Linked DNA regions of Homo sapiens. The protein of the gene in region 2 interacts with the protein of the main gene of each other region in a pairwise test. Each region holds a gene or a part of one and is shown on either strand. Other genes may lie near its edges.

Region 1 (3,500 bases), on a different chromosome or scaffold from region 2:
GTCAGGGAATCCAACTAACTGATTTGCACTACCAGATGCAGGAATTAGAAGCACCGTGTACTTCTGAAGATGATAGCAACTATGTTAAAGAATGAAGAAGCTCTCTATATACTAACACATAAAGTCCTCCAACGTGTCAGATAAAAAAAAGCAAGAAACAAAACTGTGTGTACAGTGCGACACCTTTATTGTAAAAAGGAAGATAAAGATACGCATTTGTATTTGACTGCAAAAATTTAAATAAGATTTGCACATAAAACTCTATAAAAGCCGGGCATGGTGGCTCATGCCTGTAATCCCAACATTTTGGGAGGCTGAGGCAGGTAGATCAGTTGAGGTCAGGAGTTCGAGACCAGCTTGGCCAACATGGCGAAACCCTGTCTCTACCAAAAATACAAAAATTAGCCAGGTGTGGTGGCTGTAGTCCCAGTTATGGAGGCTGAGGCATAAGAATCACTTGAACCCAGGAGGCAGAGGTTGCAGTGAGCCAAGATCACACCATTGCATTCCAGCCTGGGTGACAGAGCAAGACTCTGTCTCAAAAAGAAAAAGAAAAAAAAAAAAAAACAGCTATAAAAAAGGAACAAAGAGAAGACCAGTAAAGTGATGTTGGAAATTAATATTATTATAACAGAAATAAAAAATTCAATAGCAAGATTGAAAGGCAAGTTTCAGTAGATATATTAGAGATTCAAACTAGAAAAAGTCAAAGTATGGAAAAATAGAGAAGAATCATTAGAAAATCTGAGGATCAGTCCAGTGTGTCTAACATTAGAATAAGAGGATTTTCAAAAGAGGGAACAGAGAAATTGGAGAAGAGAAAATTTTCAAAGAAATTGTACAAAACATTTCCCAGAACTGAAGTACTGAGGGTTCCAGATTGAAAAAGCTTGCTGAGTGCCCACAGCCCAGGAATGAAAACAGACCCACATCATGGCAAAGCATCAAAAAATCAAAATATTGGAGATAAAGAAGAAATCATAAAATCTTCCAAGCCATTGGCAGAGAAGAATAGGGCTTCTCAACAGACACATTAGAAGCAAAAGAAAATGAAATGATGTGTTCAAGATTCTGAAAGAGAATAATTTCCCACCTAGAATCCTATACTGAGTCAAACACTCAATCTGGTAAATTGAAGATATTTTCAGACTGTCAGGGTCTCAAAAAAATTAGCAACTGTTTACCTTCCTTGGGTGGGAAGATATATGACTGAAGCATGAGAATAAACAAAATAGAAAGGAAAAGACAGGTTCAGGAAACAGAGTCTAAACAGGAGAGAAGCACAAGGAATTCCCAGGATGATGTGCATGAGAGACTCCAGGATGATAGCTGTGTGGCAGTGCCAGGAGGCAGCAGTGAAGATGGGGGCAGGAGGAGGGGTCTCCATGAACAGAGAGTAACTGACAAACACCTGAGCTGTCTGAGGGTGCTAAAAGATGGTTTGGTCTTCAGCAGAGTGTTTAGAAACGCATTGTAAATTAAGAAACCAAAATTATTTCCATGGCAAACATAAAATTGTATGAGAAAGAAAATATAACATAGGACAACATAATGAGTCCTTGTGATTAATATTTAAATAACCATAATGATAATTAACACTGAATACTGATTTAGCTCTTGAGAGTGATACAACTATATTCATGGGGGTGGGAGGAAGAGGAAGCAGGAATGTGTGCATGTGTGTAGGTGCGTGTGTGAGAGATAGGAAAGAGAGGGAAAGAGAGAGACAGAACAAGAGAGAACAGGTGCAGTGTTGGATTGTTGGATGCTAAAATGGAGCTAGACACATTTGGATCATTGTTAAAAATACGGATTTAGGAGCCAGACTGAGTTCAAATCCTGGCTCCACAATTTATTGCCATCATTACTATGTAATCTTGGGCAAGATATGTAATCATTCTATGTCTCAGTTTCCAATACGCAAAATTAGGATAATAATAGTATCTGCTTGGCTGGGTGGGGTGGCACATGCTGGTAGTTCTAGCTGCTCAGGAGGCTGAAGTGGGAGGATCTCTTGAGCCCAGAAGTTAGAGGATGCTGTGAGCCAAGATCACACGACTGCACTGCAGCCTAGGTGACTGAGCAAGACCCTGTTTCTTAAAAAAAAAAAAAAGTATCTGCCACATAGTGTCATTGAGAAGATTAAAATAGTACATATGTGTAAAGCACCTGAAATATTCTCTGGGATACTGTACGTGCTTTATAAGTGTTTATAAGTGCTATCATTTTGATTTTCTATAGTAGAATGCCAGTAGATAACAGGGATACTATTTGAAACTGAAAATCTGTATGAGCATGTTACTTAGAAATAGAGAATACTAGAGAAAACACCTGAAGGAAAAGTGAATGGTCGATTCAAAAGAGTGAGGCTAGGGAAGGGGGTGGGTTTGGCACAGGGCACATCCAGTCTTTATTATAATGCTAGTATTACTCTTATAAGTATCTATATCACTTTAACAATAAATTAAAATAGAACACTTAAAAGAAGGTTTTGGTCATAGTCTAAAGATAATAAAGTTTAGACTTTGATGGGCATTTCTGCTTTAATATAAGAGGTGCTGTGGTCAAAAACACTAAAATGAGCACTCTTTCTGCAGGACAAAACCCCTTATGATTAGAGCTAAGTCTGTACCAAGTAAAATATTAACTTGAGGCATTTATCTGAAAAATATCAGGATAATTCAATCCTCCCTGAACCCTTCAATTACCTAGTCCCAAATTAACAGTATTCAAAGAACGAAAGTGTTTGGGTAATTCTGGCATGAATTATTCAGATAATTTGCTACTCCTCTATTTCATTTTTGGATATGAAATCACATTCTGAGTGACCAAAATTGGAAAGAAAAAAAGCTTAAATTTAAATAACAGTTTTTCAAGTGTTCTAACTTGCTGACTCTTCTAGGCATGGATTGCAGATTTCCACAGTCCATGGTGACCAGACTGCAACTTACAGCATCCATGTAGAATGGTCCACGGCACGCACGACATTTCCGCTGATAACCAAAACAGGGAAACCTTGCTATTTTCTGTGATCTCCCTCAGAGTTTTGACTGAGAGCACATCTATAAGTCTCATCTACTAAGAAATGGATTTTGGTTCAAGGCATGAAAACTTGTATTTGAAGTGCCCAAATGGAAACTCACTGTGGGTAGGTGGACTTGTGACCAGAAGGCCAATATTGATAAAGAACACACCATTTTTCCCCGCTGTGGGAAGACAGGCTCAGTCCTTTTTTTATTCATATTTTTCTCTCTTCTTCCACTTTTCCTCTCTCTAGCTTCACCTCTCTCCAAATATCTATGAAGTCTCTATCATGCACCAGGCACCAAGCAAGACACTGGGAGTACACGTGGAGTACAAAGGTGCTATTGGGGATTACTATTTTCATGAAGCTCTTAGGCCTTTTTCACAGAGCTTGCCATGTTTTACTTGAATCCTATTTTCATTCTCTCTTGATTATGATCTCCCTGAGTGAAGGAATCAGGCCTTATCCTGGCAGA
Region 2 (3,500 bases):
ATATGGGTGTAATAAACCTTTGTTGAATAAGTGAATAGATCCAGATGCAGCTAGTAGTGGTAGTGTCATCTGCCTGCCCTGGCTGCTCCTTATCCTGTGGGGAGCGCCCCCCGACCCCCAAACCACAGCCCTGCTGAGGCACAGTGGCTGGATTTTGGATGGGGTGGCTCTGCCAGCTGTGTGCCAGCCCTGCCCTTCAGCCAAAGCTGACTGGCCCAAGGAGTCACCTGCCCCAACGGCAGTGAACCTACAGTGACACTCGAGACCCAGATGGTTGGACGAAGGGAAGGGAGGGAAGTAGATTCTCTTTTTGGGAGTGTGAGTGAAGAAATCTGCCAGTCTGCAGTGGAGAGGAAGCCACGATACTTCACTGGGGCCATGAGGAGCCAGAGGTGAGCAGGCCAAAGGGAAGCAGGAACAGGAGATGCGAGGAAAGAACAGCATGTGGACAGTGGAACCACGTTCCTACAAGTTCAAGAATCAGTAACTGATGGAAATTCCCGTGGCTCACTCCTGTAATCCCAGCAATTTGGGAGGCTGAGGCAGGCAATTGCTTGAGCCCAGGAGTTCGAGGCCAGCCCGGGCAACATGGAGAAACTCTGTCTCTACAAAAACTACAAAAATTAGCTGGGCATGGTGGCATGTGCCTGCAGACCCAGCTACTTGGGAGGCTGAGGTGGGAGGATCACTTGAGCCCAGGGAGGTTGAGGCTGCAGTGAGCCAAGATCACGCCACTGCTCTCCAGCCTGGGCAACAGAGTAAGACCCTGTCTCAGAAAAATAAAAGAAAATTTGAGTTTGCAGAAACCACTTTCTGAAAGGCTGAAACTCCCTCTGCTTATGAGATAAAAGAACTGGCTGAAATTGGTTGGAACCAATAAGGCCAATTGCAGCTTGCACAGAACAAGTTTGCTGATGTCAAAGCCTGAATTGCCACTGCACGTTTCATACTCACTCCTCCCAAATCTGCACAGGGGACCCATGAGTTGGCATGAACAGATAACTGTGCATGTCCAAGGACTGTCCAGACTTCTCCTTTCCTTCCATCAATCACCTGCTAATCTTAGAATCCACCCCTTAAACCTCCTCTAATAAAATTACCGCCTTAAAGCTAGCACAGGGAGACAGGGTTGAATTCAACTCCTGTCTCCATATGAGTCGACTCACAATAGAAAGCTTGGCTTTTCTCAAAAATCCAGTGTGACTGCTTCTAGCACATCAGGCTAGAGCCCCCTTTGCTGCATAACAATGGTGGAGGGAAGCGAATGGGGCAGAGCCTAGACGGTGCTGGGGAGAGAGCAGGGCACCGGCCTCTCCCAGCACTGCATGGTCCCCAGGCTGTGTGGCTGCAGTCCACGTGTGCCCACGCGCTGCTCCTGCTCTTGAGTCAACCTGAGTGGCCCCTGTTCTATGCAATCAAAGGAGCCAGAGCATCGTTTCCACCCTCGGGCCCCTGGGCAAGTCATGATCACAGCCCCAGGCTGTCAGGGCCCCAGCAGGTGTCATGGGAGCTCAGGGGCAGAGGAGTATGGCTGTACTGGGGAGATACATGGTGGGGTTGCGGGTGTCTGAACTGAGACCTGAAATGTGGGAGGAGGGCAGCCCAGGTATAGCCAGCTGTACGCTCAAGAGATGGTCACAGAGAAGCCTGGCACATTCGGGGAAGGAGCTATGAAGCCAGCGTGGTGGAGTGTAGGGTGCTGATGAGAAGGGTGAGAGATAAGGCGGGAGACGTGGTGAGATGAGCAGGTTAAGCGCCTTCAATCTCTGGGCCCCAGGAGAGCAGAGGCTAGGAGGAAATGAACCCAGGGTGTTCTTGGGAAAGCTTCTCCCAAGGTGTACCAGAAGTTGAGGTAATGTACCTGCTGCCACATCTATCCGGTCATTCAACAGGTATTTACTGAGGGTATGCAGTAAACAAAGAGTGTTTACAGTACAGCTGGAGCAAAAAGGAACCAACAGAAAAAGACGTGTTATTTGAGGCCAGACAGTGAGAACTGCTAAAGGAACAAAGTCCCTGAAGAGGGACAGGGACTATGTCAGATGGGAGGTCTCAGCAGCAGACATCATGGTGCTCCGGCAGCAGGACAGCACCACGTCGGCCGGCTGCCACTCATGCCACAAAAGGAGGCATCAAGGATCATGTTAGCCCCAAAGCAGCTGACATTCAGGTGTCCACTTTCTCCAAAAAGGCCTCAGGAGAAGCAGCAGCCACTTGAGCAGCTACCTCCACCGGCCTGCAGGGACTCCCAGTCACATTGGAAACCTCCAAACCATGGAAGGGGTTTTCCACAACCACTCCCTTAATTTCATACTTTTGCCTCCCTGCTTCTGACAGAATGAAGATCTATAAACCAGCCCTCCAGTAAATCACCAAAAATGCAGCAGACCCACCTCTTCTTGGTGGGTCTACAAATGAGAGACAGGGTCTCACTCCAGGGTCGCCCAGGCTGGAGTGCAGTGGCATGATCTTGGCTCACTGCAGCCTCAACCTCCCTGGACTCAAATGATCCTCCCGCCTCAGCCTCCTGAGTAGCTGGGATCACAGGCATTTGCCCCCATGCCCGGCTAAAATTTATTTTTTGTAAAGGCGGGGTTTCACCATGTTGCCCAGGCTGCTCTTGAACTCCTGGGCTCAAGTGATCTGCCTACCTCAGCCTCCCAAAGTGCTGGGATTACAGGCATGAGCCAGGCTGTAAATATTGAGGTGGGCACAAGTATCTCCTCTGTCATAGCCTGCGCGTCAGTCCTCACCACCTGTGGTGAGGCTGGTGGTGGACATGGGCTTTTCTGAGCTGAAAGCGTAGCTGCTGTTCACTTGCTCTTCCCTCTGCTGGGAATGCCACTTCCCTACTCCTCTGCCCAAGTAATGCCAATTCATCCTTCACAAGGTGGCACAAACTGTCCCTTTGAGAAGGCTTTCTGAGCAGCCCCTCCTCTGCAGCACACGCCTCCCCTGGGCTCCCTCAGCCCAAGCATACTCGATTCTAGCACTTACACCCTGGGCTCTCTGCTGCCACACTGAGACCTCTGGGCCAACAGACCACTTTTTGTTTTTTTTAAAATCTCTTGGCACCATCAGTGCACATAACTATTAGTGAAATGAGTGTTCCCTCTGGTGGGGACAGAGTTCAGTTTATTCCGATAGGTGGCGCTCTACCCGTGCATTTCTTAGGAGGAATCTGAGAACCCCAGTCAATCATGCAACACTGTGAACTGGGCATTTTTGGGGGGCCTCCTCTCCCCTGCTCCAATGTGAATTACGCAAGTGCATCATCATTTGGGGTCAGATTACCTGCAATCTTTCCCAAGTGAAATTATCCACTAACTGAAAATCCATCACCAACATTAAGCCTTTATTATCTACTGTCATATCAGACACTGTACCAGGTGCTGAGGACATAAGTGATGGATGAAGTTGCTCTCAAAGAAGTCCCAGTCAGTCTGGCAGGCAGAGGGCACTTACCTGTAAGTGACTGCTCCATACTCCCCAGCCAAGGC
Region 3 (3,500 bases), on a different chromosome or scaffold from region 2:
GCCACGCCCACCGAGCTTCTAAGGAAAGATGCTCCACCCACAGCAGTTTATTGGGAGCCAGGCCACACCCACTGAGCCTTCTAAGGAAAGATGCTCCACCCACAGCAGTTTATTGGGAGCCAGGCCACACCCACTGAGCCTTCTAAGGAAAGCGTATTGGGAGCCAGGCCACGCCCACCGAGCCTTCTAAGGAAAGATGTCATTCCTTCAGATGAGCCAAGATTATACCTGGCACATGAACCCTTATAAAAAATCAGCCTGTTGACATGGGCCTGGAGGGCGGAGCCATGGGGAAGCAGGAACCACAACGGAGACCGCTGTGGGGGGCAGAGGGACTACTGGGGTGGGGCCGGAGGGGCCAAGGACCATGAGAGTGACAGAATCAAGAGGAGCTGATGGGGGCGTGGGAAACAAAGGGGTCTGGGGGGCTTGGCCCCAAGGAAATGGCTGTGAACCTTGTGGGTCCCCGCCCTCACCTGCCTGCAGGGCTGTGTCAGCAGCTCCCTGCGCGGCTCAATTGGCTTCTGCTGGTGGAAGGTGACCAGGGCGTCCAGCGAGGTGTGGGCCACCTTCTCCCCGGGGATCATGAAAGTCCCATCATCCAAGAGCTTCACCATGAAATGGCAGCAGCTGCTTTGGGCTCTGCGGAGACACTGCGGGGGCTGGGACATCCTACTCCCCCTCATCCCTGCCCCAAGTCCCCAGCCCTTGGGCCGGCAGCGTCACTGCTACAGCCAGACTACCCCAGGTTCCCATGCAGGCTTCTTCACTCACTGGCCATGCAACACCCAGCAGGTTACTAACCTCGCTGTGCCTCAGTTTCCCCCATTTATAACACAGGAGTACAAAGGCTGGCCTCAGATAAAACATGCCACTACGGACAAAAGCTTCACTCATTGCTTGGCTAGCAGCTCCCGTTCTCAGATCCACAGCCTCAGTTACTGCTGCTTTCTGAGAAGCTATGACATGAAGCACCCCTTGCCCCCTCCAAGGAAACCCAAGAGCCCACCTGCCCCTGCCCTGGATCCCGGCCCAGGCCTTACTTGTAGGAGAGTGTGTAGCCCACATGGCTGTGACTGACCCTGATGAGAAAGGATCCCAGTGGCTGTGACTCCAGCAAGTTCTCAGCATCCCTGGAAGGGCACACACAGAAAGGAAATGAAACAGTCCAGCCGCCCCACGTACCAGTTAGACTCCTGGGGCCATGGGATCATTCATGGAGAAGGCTGGTAGTTTTCATTTTTCTTTTTTCCTTTTTTTTTTTTTTGAGACAGAGTCTCGCTCTGTCCCCCCGGCTGGAGTGCAGTGGCGCGATCTCAACTTACTGCAAGCTCCGCCTCCCGGATTCACGCCATTCTCCTGCCTCAGCCTCCCAAGTAGCTGGGACCACAGGCGCCAGCCACCACGCCCGGCTAATTTTTTGTATATTTTAGTAGAGATGGGGTTTCACTGTGTTAGCCAGGATGGTCTCGATCTCCTGACCTCGTGATCCGCCCACCTCGGCCTCCCAAAGTGCTGGGATTATAGGTGTGAGCCACCGTGCCCGGCCTCTTTTTTCCTTTTTTTTTTTTTTTTTGTTGAGACAGAGTCTCGCTCTGTCTCCCAGGCTGAGTGCAATGGCGTGACCTTGGCTTACTGCAGCCTCAACCTCCTGGGTTCAGGTGATTCTCTTGCCTCAGCCTCCTGAGTAGCGGGGATTACAGGCGCCCGCCACCATGCCCAACTTTTTTTTTTTTTTTTTAGTAGAGACAGGGTTTCACCATGTTGGCCAGGCTGGTCTCAAACCCCTGTCCTCAAGTGATCCGCCTGCCTCAGCCTCCCAAAGTGCTGGGATTACAGGTGTGAGCCACTGTGCCCGGCCTGTTTTCTAAATGAACAAACACCCCAAACCCATCTTTTTTTTTTTTTTTTTTTTTTTTCAGCTGTGGCAGACCTTGGGCTATTCAGGGATTAGGGATGTTCCCCCCGAGGAGCTAGGAGGCGTCTGATGACCTTGATCTCAGGCCAGACCTCCTCCCATCTCCCACAGCCCCTTCCCAATGCCTGGAATCCCCCGATTAAGGCACCTTTGGGTGGATCAAGGTGTCACAAGTAACAAAGAAGGACCTGTATGCTCAGATGCATTCGAGTTCATAACCCAGCTCTACTGTCCATCAGCTGTGTGACCTCAGGCAATCGTCTCTCCCTTTCTGACCTTCAGCTTCCTCAAGGGGAGAGTAAACTCCACTTCCAAGGCTGCTGTGAGAACAGAAAGAACTTGCAACATAAGCATGACAGCTGCTACCTGGTAAGTGCTCCCAAAATGTTTGCTGTTATTATTACTATTATTCTCTCTCTCTCTCTTTTTTTTTTTTTTTTTGAGTTGGAGTTTTGCTTTTGTTGCCCAGGCTGGAGTGCAATGATGCAATCTTGGCTCACTGCAACCTCTGCCTCCCAGGTTCAAGCTATTCTCCTGCCTCAGCCTCCCAAGTAACTGGGATTACAGGTACCCGCAACCACGCCCAGCTAATTTTTTGTATTTTTAGTAGAGACGGGGTTTCACCATGTTTGCCAGGCTGGTCTCGAGCTCCTGACCTCTGGTGATCCGCCCGCCTCGGCCTCCCAAAGTGCTGGGATTACAGGCGTGAGCCACCGAAATCAGTCTATTTTCTATATTATTACCATTATTATCTGGAGTTCACAGAGAGGAAGGCCGCCTTCTGTGGGACAAGCTGGGGAGACTTTGGTCCTGCACTGTTCAATACAGAGGCCACTGGCCTTTTGTACTGATTTCCAAAACAACACAAAAAAGGAACATATGCTGTTTCATGAATTGTTTTTTGTTTTTGAGACAGGGTCTTACTCTATCACTCAGGCTGGAGTGCAGAGATGCAATCATAACTCACTGAAACCTTGAATTCCTGGGCTCAAGAGATCCTCCCACCTCAGCCTCCTGAGTAGCCAGAACCACAGGCATGTTCCACACGCCTGGCTAATTTTTTTAATTTTTTTTTTTTTTTGAGCTGGAATCTTGCTCTGTCACCCAGGCTGGAGTGCAGTGGCATGATCTCTGCCTGCAGGGTTCCAGCAAGTCTCCTGCCTCAGCCACCCGAGTAGCTGGGATTACAGGCACGTGCCACCGTGCCCAGTTAATTTTTTTTTTTTTGAGACGGAGTTTTACTCTTGTTGCTCAGCCTGGAGTGCAGTGGCACGACCTCAGCTCACTGCAATCTCCGCCTCCTGGGTTCAAGTGATTCTGCTGCCTCAGCCTCTCGAGTAGCTGGGATTACAGGCATGCGCCACCACGCCTGGCTAATTTTGTATTTTCAGTAGACACAAGGTTTCACCATGTTGTCCAGGCTGGTCTCAAACTCCTGACCTCAGGTGGTCTGCCAGCCTCGGCCTCCCAAAGTGCTGGGATTACAAGCATGAGCCACTGCACCCAGCCTAAAATTCCTTTTAGAGATGGAGTCTCACTATGTTGTCCAGGCCAGCCTTGAACTCCTGGGCTCAAGCGATCC
Region 4 (3,500 bases), on a different chromosome or scaffold from region 2:
GGCTTGTAGATGGTCACTGCAAGGCAAGCCCTTGGAGACCACTTGGTCTGACCTCCATTGTTAACAGAAAAGGAAACTGAGGCCTCTGGAGAAATTGAGCAGTTTTGAAGGCACTCAGTTACCTGGTGGGCGAGCCAGATTATAAACAGGGGTCTCCTCACTGCCAGGAGAGTGCATCTCCAGGATGTCATACTGCTTCAATAACCCTAAATGGGACAGTCACATCTGTTTGATCCTGTCTTTAAGAGAGGGCTGTGATATAATAAGTGGTAAGCACTGAAGAAAGCTATGAGTAGAAGCTTCAAGGGGAGAAAGTGAGTCTAAGATTTTGGCTCCCCAGAGAGTCAAAGGGGGGAGATAGATAACAATCAAGATAGGGTGAGGCCAGGTTGTAGAGGGCCCTTATACCGTCAGGTGGGGTCTGAACTTGACACAACAGTATAGGGAGCCACCAAAGACTCTGAACATAGGAGTGACATGATGTTAAGTTTCACCTGTACAGGATCTCCATGTCATCAGCTCTAATGGACACTTCGCAGTCATCATAATTGACTTAAAGCATCTAACACAGCTGATCTCTCCTTGAACTCTCCTCTCGGTTTCGGCTGGTGCCACATTTTACAGAGTTTCCTTCTACCTTTCTTGATGTTCCTTCTCAATGTCTTTGGCAGGCTCCTTTTCTACCCTAAATGCTGGAGTTCTTTAGGATTCTGTTGCAGGCTCTGCTTTCCCCTCCCTCTCCTTTCTCCCATAGAGGACCTCATCCACTGCTGTTCAGTGCTATGAGTCCCCGATTCATACACCCAGACCAGACGTTTTCTTTGCACTCCAGACCTGTATCATCCGTTGACTGCTTGACAACTCATTTGGGATGTTTCACAGGCCTCTCATGCTTAACATGTCCAAAACATGAACTCTTCTTTTTTTTAAAAAACACCATCTGCCCAGGTGTTCAGCTCCAACTGAAGTCATCCTTTGATCTGTCCTTTTCCGTCTACGCTTATCCATCAAAAGTCCCACAGGTTTTACCTCCAGAATAAGTCCACATCCATCTACTTTTCATCTCTGCCGTGATCCTGGTCTAAACCACCATCATCTTCTCTTGGGCTGTTGGGACGCCTCCTCACTGGCTACAGACTTGCTCTGTTCTGTGCTCTCCAGAGCAGCCAGAGCTAACTAACTTTGGAAAATGGAGAGTGGGTATCTCTGTCTCCATCACAAACACGCACCTCTCAGAGCCCTTCCACAGCTCCCCACATGCTTCCTTCTTGATCGACCCCTGCCTCCCTCCCCACCCGCCCTCATCCTGTCCCATGATCTCCACTGTCCCGTTACACTGCCTTTTTTCAGTTCCTCAGATATACTAAGATCTTCTCTGTCCTGTTACCTCCACAACTGCTACCAAGAATACACTACTTCTGGCTCTTTGCAAGAGTGGCTGCGTCTTGTCTTTCACTTTGCAGCTTGAATATTATCTTCACAGCCAGGCCCTGCACAGGTCTCCTCTTCACCCTCCATGACAGCACCTCATCTCCTTAACATTGGGGTGCTTCCCTCATTTTAACTCAGCCTGTGCTTACCTTTTGCCTGTTCTCCCCAGTAATCCCTGCGTTTTCTTACCTAGGCCAGGCCTGGGCAAATAGTAGATACTCAAATATTTGTTGAGTAGCTAGATAAATGAATGAACAGCAGATATATAGTAACTGCAGAATGAGGGAAGTCCACACATGGTACTTGCTTAGAAGTAAATAGCAGTTTGTTCCCAAGAACACAATTTCTCTGATTCTTTCCCCCCCCACTGTCATCAAAACATTGCTTTATTCTCAGTGGGCTGACCCTAAAAGAGATAGTATCCCTCTCCCCACAGCTCTGGGGCCATCTGGCAGCCACATCTGTCACCCATCCAATCACTGGGCTAATTCAGCTGGCTGGCTAGAGTCATTTTTTTTCCCCCCAGGGAGTCTTCTGTGTCCCTTCTGTGGGGTCCTTTTGGTCTAAGAATGTGACTTGCTTATTCTAGAATAGGGGGAAAAGTCAGTTACTGAATAATTAAATATAGGCTGCAAATTGTCTTTTTAGGAAACGTATCACACCTTCTAATTCCAAACCCCCCTAAACTATCCATCAACACCCTTGAGAGATGGCATATCAGAGCTAGAAGGGTCCTAGGAGGTTAGCTAGTTCCCTGTATGTCACAAGGCTGAGAAGACAAAGGCCCAGAGCATTTACTGACTTACTCAGGGACATCTAGCTGTGTATAACACAAGGCAGAGATATCGTTAGAACCCATGTCTCTCAACTGCAGGTCTGGTATTCCCTCCATTGTGCACATCAAACATTTTTGTAACTTTACAAAGAGAAGACATACATTTACCCAGGAGAAGGCTACGGGATTAACCCTCGCTGACTGGATCTTTAGTTCCACTTCCTTTCATATAGTGTCTTCCTTAGAGTTCCATTTCATAAAGCATGCTACTTGTATCAACTGTTAAATCCTTAAGTTACGGTGCTGAAATGTTTCTCGGACTTGTTGCCTCTTTCTCCTCTTTTTTAAAAACATTTGTTTACGTTCTCATGTTCTGCTTCACAGCTACTACTACATCAACATCCTACTGGGTCTTGCACTCTCCCCTTCTTCCCACAACCTGTATCCTAAAATTTATCCTACTCAGGTACAGAATAGTCTTCCCTAACCCTGGTTCTGACCATCGCCCATTTTCTCAAAACCTTCCATTTTGCTCCATTGCCTGTAACTCCTAAGCAGGGCACCCAGGTCTTTCCAGTTAGACTCAAACCTATTTTCTGGCCTTACCTTCTCCCATTCCTTCTCAGATACCCCGTGCCCGGCATGTGAACGCTGGCTCCACACTGCACAGATTCTGGGAAGTTACTTAACCACTGAGTTTTCTAATGACTTCCTTCTGGGGTCATTAGATATTTGTAAAAAATGTAATGGGGTTCTTTCTACCATGCCACTAAAAGATGAACACCAAATATAGTCGTAATTTTAATTTACCCTTTAATGCCAGGCTTTCATTAGTATGAAAATACAATCCTCTACTATTTAACCAGATGGAAACTCCCATTAAGACAAAAGGTAGGATTCCTGGAATAAATCCTAAAGCACTATTCAAAATGAGGAAAGCTGTATGCATGAAAATGTTTGCTCTAAATGATAACAGTAAACGCCAGGGAGATAACCTAAATATTCAATGGTTAATAAATGGTAGAATGGGCCAGGCGCAGTGGCTCATGCCTGTAATCCCAGCACTTTGGGAAGCTGAGGCGGGTGGATCACTTGAGGTCAGGAGTTCAAGACCAGCCTGGCTAACATAGTGAAACCCCATCTCTATTAAAAATACAAAAATTAGCCAGGTGTGGTGGTGGGCGCCTGTAATCCCAGCTACTCGGGAGGCTGAGGCAGGAGAATCACTTGAATCTGGGAAGTGGCGGTTGCAGTGAGCCGGGATTACTCCACTGCACTCCAGCCCAGGTGACAG

The links. The genes of interacting proteins can lie anywhere in the genome.
Region 1: the proteins of PINK1 (region 2) and SNCAIP interact in a two-hybrid assay, tested with the Homo sapiens proteins (one study listed by BioGRID).
Region 3: the proteins of PINK1 (region 2) and HSH2D interact in a two-hybrid assay, tested with the Homo sapiens proteins (one large-scale study listed by BioGRID and IntAct).
Region 4: the proteins of PINK1 (region 2) and APPL2 interact in a two-hybrid assay, tested with the Homo sapiens proteins (one large-scale study listed by BioGRID and IntAct).

What each region holds. Positions count from the first base shown.
Region 1 is NC_000005.10:122,458,737-122,462,236, reverse strand, and holds part of SNCAIP (synphilin-1), read right to left. Parts: exon of another isoform or gene 2,903-3,500; intron 1-2,902. UniProt on the Homo sapiens protein: Isoform 2 inhibits the ubiquitin ligase activity of SIAH1 and inhibits proteasomal degradation of target proteins. Isoform 2 inhibits autoubiquitination and proteasomal degradation of SIAH1, and thereby increases cellular levels of SIAH.
Region 2 is NC_000001.11:20,639,958-20,643,457, reverse strand, and holds part of PINK1 (serine/threonine-protein kinase PINK1, mitochondrial precursor), read right to left. Parts: coding exon 3,466-3,500; intron 802-3,465; exon of another isoform or gene 340-801; intron 1-339. UniProt on the Homo sapiens protein: Serine/threonine-protein kinase which acts as a sensor of mitochondrial damage and protects against mitochondrial dysfunction during cellular stress.
Region 3 is NC_000019.10:16,150,185-16,153,684, reverse strand, and holds part of HSH2D (hematopoietic SH2 domain-containing protein), read right to left. Parts: intron 2,239-3,500; exon of another isoform or gene 2,107-2,238; intron 1,134-2,106; coding exon 1,044-1,133; exon of another isoform or gene 643-1,043; coding exon 477-642; intron 1-476. UniProt on the Homo sapiens protein: May be a modulator of the apoptotic response through its ability to affect mitochondrial stability. Adapter protein involved in tyrosine kinase and CD28 signaling. Seems to affect CD28-mediated activation of the RE/AP element of the interleukin-2 promoter.
Region 4 is NC_000012.12:105,191,175-105,194,674, forward strand, and holds part of APPL2 (DCC-interacting protein 13-beta), read right to left. Parts: intron 1-3,500. UniProt on the Homo sapiens protein: Multifunctional adapter protein that binds to various membrane receptors, nuclear factors and signaling proteins to regulate many processes, such as cell proliferation, immune response, endosomal trafficking and cell metabolism.